2 linked regions of the Homo sapiens genome follow. The protein of the gene in region 1 purifies or fractionates together with the protein of each later gene. This does not show direct contact. Each region holds a gene or a part of one and is shown in the gene's direction. Other genes may lie near its edges.

Region 1 (3,500 bases):
TGGAAATACGGACATTAAAAGTGTCGAAGGTTCAGAAATAGAGGTGGGATGCTGGTAAATGCAGCTGAAACTGACCATCTGTGGAAATACGGACATTAAAAGTGTCGAAGGTTCGGAAATAGAAGTGGGATGCTGGTCAATGCAGCTGAAACAGATGGAGCCGAGATGGTTCGACCTAAACGGCAAGAGTGTGAGGGTGTCAGATCAAAGCCAAATGGACCAGTTTTCTCCTTCAGGGGTGTAAGAAGTGGGGTTAGTTGGTATTTATTCTTCATGGAGAGGGCGGAATCCATCCTGAACCCTCGATTTGTTTAAATACTAGTTATGGGTAATCTTACCCATATAGTTTTTTAATAACATTTATTCCCTCTTTTTTTCCTTCAGTAAGGAGTGAATTTTTTTTTTTTTTTTTTTTTTTTTTTTTGAGACGGAGTCTTGCTCTGTCTCCCAGCCCGGAGTGCAGTGGTGCGATCTCGGCTCACTGCAAGCTCCGCCTCCCAGGTTCATGCCATTCTCCTGCCTCAGCCTCCCGAGTAGCTGGAACTACAGGCTCCTGCCACCATTCCTGGCTAATTTTTTGTATTTTTAGTACAGACGGCTAAAAATTTCACCATGTTAGCCAGGATGGTCTCGATCAAGGAGTGAAGTATTTTTCTAATTACTTTTCCCTGGTTTTTATCTCCTAGGTCTTCTGTTCCAAGCTCTTAGTGAATTCTGTATTTTTAGGACTTGCTCTACAAATAGTACAGCTTTATTTTCACCCTCATTTGTTTTCTGCAGCTTCAAGGATTGTCTGTTTATGTCGGTCTAGGATGTTCTAGACAGGTGTTCACATTTGTGACCACCTTACTCACAGGTGCAGTGATCTCACAGAGGCAGACATAGATTCATGCATTTTCTGGAGAGAACATTTTTGAAGAAGGGAAGCTTTGGTATCCTTTTGGCTTCTATGGAGCTTTTGCTATCTTTTTCTTTTCTTTTCTTTCCTTTTTTTTTTTTTTGAGACAAAGCCTCACTCTGTTGCCCAGGCTGGAGTGCAGTGGTGCTACCTGGGCCCACTGCAACCTCCGCCTCCCGGGTTCAAGCGATTCTCCTGTCTAAGCCTCCTGAGTACCTGGGATCACAGGTGCTCGCCACTACACCCAACTAATTTTTGTATTTTTAGTACAGACAGGGTTTCTCCATGTTGGTCAGGCTGGTCTCGAATTCCTGACCTCAGGTGATCTGCCCACCTCGGCCTCCCGAAGTGCTGAGATTACAGGCGTGAGCCACCACACCCGGCAGGATCTTTCCAAATCATGTGTTTTCTACTAAGACTCCTGGAGAAATGAGTTAATTGTTTCATATAAGGATTATACCTTGAGTTTCATTTTCCATACCTTTCAAAAGGAGCATTACTAATAAATTTACAAACATTTTTTAAAAAGGAAAAGGAAAGAAAGCATTCCGGGCGAGAGCCCAGAGGATGTGAGGAGAATGTCCTGACAAAGTGGAGGGAGGCAAAGTGCCTGTCACATCCAGGTAGTGGCGGGAAACGCCATGGGGCTGTGTCCTGCTGTCAGAGAGAAGCTGACTTTGTCAGGTGAACCTGGGTGTTCTGCTGAGGGGATCTCCAGACAGTGGAAGGTGCAGCCTGGCCTGTTTCTGCTGCTTATGGTGAAATGTGAGCAGAAGACCTGGACATTCAGCTGAGGAGATCTCCAGACAGTGGAAGGTACAGCCTGGCCTGTTTCTGCTGCTTATGGTGAAATGTGAGCTGAAGACCTGGATATTCAGCTGAGGAGATCTCCAGACAGTGGAAGGTGCAGCCTGGCCTGTTTCTGCTGCTTATGGTGAAATGTGAGCAGAAGACCTGGACATTCAGCTGAGGAGATCTCCAGACAGTGGAAGGTGCAGCCTGGCCTGTTCCTGCTGCTTATGATAGAATGTGAGCAGGAGGGACTGAGGGGAGCGCTCTTAAACAGAAAGGAACTAGGACTTGATGATTTGGGAAACTCTCATCCTGTCCAGATGGCAAAAGATGCTAAGAATAAGTGATCATTCCCAAAAGTGTAACCTGAAAAGCTGAGTGTGTATCTGTGCAGGAGTGAGGTCAGAAACAGTCTTCGAAAGCAAACCCGAGGCTTCCAGAAAGCGCAGGGGTATCAGCCCTTGGCCGCCTCCGCAGATGCTGAAGTGGACAGGAAACGTGCCAGCGAAGTTCCACGCCACTCACAATCTTCCCAGACATGTCTCGTCAGCCACTGCAAGCATGGAAGCCAGTTCTTGATAGTAAATCTCTTAATATTTATCTCCCACTGGTTTGCTTCTCTAGATCGGCCCAACTGACCAATTTTGGTGCCGGAAGTTGTTGCAGAGGAAAGTCTTACAGATGAGTTGTCTGCACTGGTTCTGGGACTTCTGGAATTGGTTCTCTACATTATTAGATTTAGAGACACTAAGGGCCTAGTTTCCAGTAGTAAAGAGGATACAGGCCGGGCGCAGTGGCTCACACCTGTAATCCCAGCACTTTCAGAGGCCGAGGTGGGCGGATCACCAGGTCAGAAGATCGAGACCATCCTGGCTAACACGGTGAAACCCCGTCTCTACTAAAAATATAAAAAATTAGCCAGGTGTGGTGGCGGGCACCTGTAGTCCCAGCTACTTGGGAGACTGAGGCAGGAGAATGGCGTGAACCCAGGGGGTGGAGATTGCAGTGAGCCGAGATCGTGCCACTGCACTCCAGCCTGGGAGACAAAGTGAGACTCTGTCTCAAAAAAAAAAAAAAAAAAAAAAGGCCGGGCGCGGTGGCTCATACCTGTAATCCCAGCACTTTGGGAGGCCGAGGCAGGCGGATCACGAGGTTAGGAGATCAAGACCACCCTGGCTAACACGGGGAAACCCCATCTCTACTAAAAATACAAAAAAGTAGCCGGGCATGGTGGCGGGCGTCTGTATTCCCAGCTACTCGGGAGGCTGAGGCAGGAGAATGGCATGAACCCGGGAGGCAGAGCTTGCAGTGAGCCGAGATCACGCCACTGCACTCCAGCCTGGGTAACAGAGCGAGACTCCGTCTCAAAAAAAAAAAAAAAAAAAAAAAAAAAAAAAGATACAGTAGTCCATGGTGAGATGTTGCAAAATTATTCAAAATATTGCCATGGGATACCCTTAATTGGGAACCTATAGAAGCACAGATTCTGACATAACAAGTATTTGCTACTTCCAAGCACTGCAGTCAAACTAATGGATATAATGGGATGGGCTGGTTGCTCCTAACTGTGCTGGAGAAGGTGGGAAAGAAAAAGATGAGCTCAGCTCCACACGAAGGACCTGCAAGCTTCTATCTTGGCCCAGAAGAAGCCCTTATTCCCTGTAGCTGCAGAAGTAAAATTGCTGAACACCATGCCTAGAGTTTAATCCTGTGAGCAGCTGAATTACAACAGAAATTAAATTCACAACTGATGTTATTAAACTTTGTCCACTTGGCCAGTCCTATCCATGTAAAATTACATTTCATTGTC
Region 2 (3,500 bases), on another chromosome or scaffold:
ATCATTCAAAATGGGAACCAAAATTTCTTTGTAGTGAGAAAGTTGATTTTCCATAAGGGGAAAAAAAAGGAACTGATTTTGGAGAACATGAATTTCTTTGATAAAGTTGTATAATGTAATAGCACAATAAGACATATTTCATATTTGATTTTTTCAAAAATTTTATTTCTGAGAGCAATTTTAGGTTCACAGCAAAATTGAATGGAAAGTATAGAGTTCCTGTATACCCTCTGTCTCTACACATGCATACATTTGATTTTTCATGATGATGTCACACATATACTTTTTTTTCAAAAATATTTGAGGCCCTTACTGTTTTCCAGAGATCTCTCAGTAATTTCTTGAAAACAGCTTGTCGTTTTCTTTTCACTAGTTAATTGGCTATTTCTTCCTGAACATCACTGGCCAATGAGCATATGTGTGTTTCTGATTTGAAGTTTTCTAATATTTAAACTCTTTTCATTACATATTTTTTATTATGAAAAATATCAAATATTCAAAAGACAATATAATGAACCTCATCACCTATCTTCACTTAATTAACTCATGGCCAGTTATGTTCTTTTCATCATCCCCTTTCCCCATTGTTTTTGAAGTATATTATTTATTCATGAATGTTTCCAGTATATATCTTCAAAGGAAAAGGAATTTTTTAAAAAAAGCAATACCAATACTATTATAAAACCTAAAAAAATTAACATCTATTATCACTTTGATCAATCTCATAAGGTTCTGCTTCTTTGCCAAATTTGTGATTTTACTTCTGAGTTTCCATTTCATTTGCATTTTTTTGCCTAAGGTTTACTGTAATCAAATCTCATGGACAGAGATCAAGAAAATAGCTCATTAATGAACATTTTCACATTATGACATCTTTCATTTCTGCCTTTTACCTTTGAAGACTTAGACTCAATCCTGGGGTAACAAGTATTCTCTTAAGTTACCTTCATTTAAAAAATGAAGACACAAGAGGCTCATAGGTTAGTGTACAGTCATGGGTTAATACAGTGTAGTAGAGGCAGACATCAATCTTCTTTGAACACAATTTTTTGAGTGCAATGCGTGGGCTGGGCACTGGTTTTGGCGTTTGGGATGTATCAGCGCAAGTTTTCTGCCCTCTGGAAGTTTCAGTGCGCTCTTTCTTTTTTGTGTGTTTTTTTTTGAAGAGATGGTCTTGGTCTCTTACCCAGGCTGGAATCATAGGGAGTGCAATCATACCCCCCTGTTTTAACCTTGAGCTCCTGGCCTCGAGCGATCCTCCCATCTCAGGCTCCTGGTTAGCTTGGACTACAGACATATACCACCACGCCAAGCTAATTTTTAAAGTTTTTCTTGAGACAAAGTCTCACTATGTTGCTCAGGCTGGCCTTGAACTCTTGGGCTCAAGTGATCCTCCACCTTTGCCTCCTGAAAGTGTTGGGAAAGTGTTGGGATTACATGCGTGAGCCACTGCATATGGTATGTGTCCTTTTTTTTTTTTTTTTGACACTGAGTCTCGCTCTGTTACCCAGGCTGGAGTGCAGTGGCGCGATCTCGGCTCACTGCAGCCTCCACTTCCTGGGTTCAAGTGATTTTCCTGTTTCAGCCTCCTGCGTAGCTGGGACTACAGGTGCAGCCACCATGCCTGGCGAATTTTTCTGTTTTTAATAGAGATGGGGTTTCACCTTATTGGCCAGGATGGTCTCGATCTCCAGACCTCATGATCCGCCTGCCTCAGCCTCCCAAAGTGCTGGGATTACAGGCGTGAGCCACCGTGCCCAGCTGTGTGCTTTATTCAGTGCACATTTTTGTTCATTTAGGACAGACTAGGCCAGGTGGTAACTTCATCAAAAACATTGAAGAAAATAGGAATTCTGAATGTATTATTTGAAAAGAAAATCTCATTCTGACCACTGTGTTTTAATGCCTTACTTTGAGGCACTAAGAAAGGCAGTTAGAAAAAAGAAATGTACCGTTTGATGTTCTGAGATCTGAATGTCACTTAAGAATGGTTTTCCCAAGTGTTCTTTCTGCAGTGTTGTAAAATAAAATTGTATTTGAAATACCTGTTGTTAATTGAAGTGGAGGCAAATTTTTACTGTTTTTTTTTTTTTGGCAAGCTTGTAAATAAGCATATAACTATATAACTTCTAAGAACTGTTTTTCTTATGGAACCTGGGAATTAACTTTTTTCTGCTAAATGAGACTTATTTTTAGAGAATCCCTTTCGCCCCTGTAAAAAGTAGAGGTTCCTCTTCAAAGACTTTCCTCCCCATCTAATTAGGAATAAATAGTAACTTCTCTTACAAGCAAAATTTATTCAAAGACCCTTGCAAACATTCTTAAATATCTGCTAGCCATAATGAAGAAATCAATGTACTTTATGTTCTTAGCTCCCACAATTTAGCCTAAATATTTGCCCTGGCATGCTTATACTGGTCCAAGCAAGCATTAGGTCATAGCCTGTTCCTCTTCCTTATTTGAAGGTGTTTTTATCTTTCTCAGCATTCCACAAGTTACTTCCTCCTTCCTTTGTTCTCTGCCTTTGCCTCTTTTAAAAAGTTCTAAGTTGCTAGCCAATCGGGACAAATACAGAATGTGAGGTCCCGTTCTAGCAAGTGGAAACCGGACACAACAGTAGGGTGGACGCTTCGGGTTATAAATGACCCTGTCTCCTTTGTTGGGTGTACTCTCCTGGCAAAACTGCTGGCGAGTGTACCTTTTCTGCAGAAAGTATAAAAATGGCCTTGCTGAGGAAATTAAATTTATGTTGAAGTGCTGTTTCTTTACAGCAATGGGGAATGAGCATTTCAAACATCCCCCTTCCCCCCCTTATTTTTAGACAGTCTTGCTCTGTCGCCCAGGTTGGAGTGCAGTGGCGCTGTCACAGCTCACTGCAAACTCAACCTCCCAGGCTCAAGCGATCTTCCCATCTCAGCCTCTGGAGTAGCTGGGACCACGGGCATGTATCAGCACACCCAGCTAGGTTTTTATTATTTTATTTTTATTTTTGTAGAGACAGGGTCTCACTATGTTGCCACGGCTGGTCGCAAACTCCTGGGCTCAAATCTTCCTGCCTCGCCCTCCCAAAGTGCTGGGATTACAGGCATAAGCCACTGCACCTAGCGCCTCTTCCCTCCTTTTCAAATACAAAAATCCTAATCTATGTTTCTGTCTAACCTTTGTAGAAAATTAGATCAAAATCTCATTCTATATGAACACCAAACTGAGAGCATGGTAGTAAAAACGGTAAGCAAACAACAACAGCAACAGAAAACCTCTACATTCATTGAGACCTCTATTGGAATGTTAAAAGCAGCACATACTATAAATATTCCCATTTGGAACCTTGAGGTTGACTACTTCTGTATTTGGTTTACACTTAACATTTCTTCTCTCTCTTTCTTTGAGACTGAGTCTTGCTCTGTCACCCAGGCTGGAGTGCAATTGTACCATCTTGCCTCACTGCAACCTCTGCCTCCCAGGTTCAAGCGATTCTCCTGCCTCAGCCTCCTGGGTAG

What was found. The genes of interacting proteins can lie anywhere in the genome.
Region 2: the proteins of EXD3 (region 1) and PSME4 purify together in Homo sapiens (affinity purification with mass spectrometry; one large-scale study listed by BioGRID and IntAct). This does not show direct contact.

What each region holds. Positions count from the first base shown.
Region 1 is NC_000009.12:137,343,163-137,346,662, reverse strand, and holds part of EXD3 (exonuclease mut-7 homolog), read left to right. Parts: intron 1-3,500. UniProt on the Homo sapiens protein: Possesses 3'-5' exoribonuclease activity. Required for 3'-end trimming of AGO1-bound miRNAs.
Region 2 is NC_000002.12:53,960,994-53,964,493, reverse strand, and holds part of PSME4 (proteasome activator complex subunit 4), read left to right. Parts: intron 1-3,500. UniProt on the Homo sapiens protein: Associated component of the proteasome that specifically recognizes acetylated histones and promotes ATP- and ubiquitin-independent degradation of core histones during spermatogenesis and DNA damage response.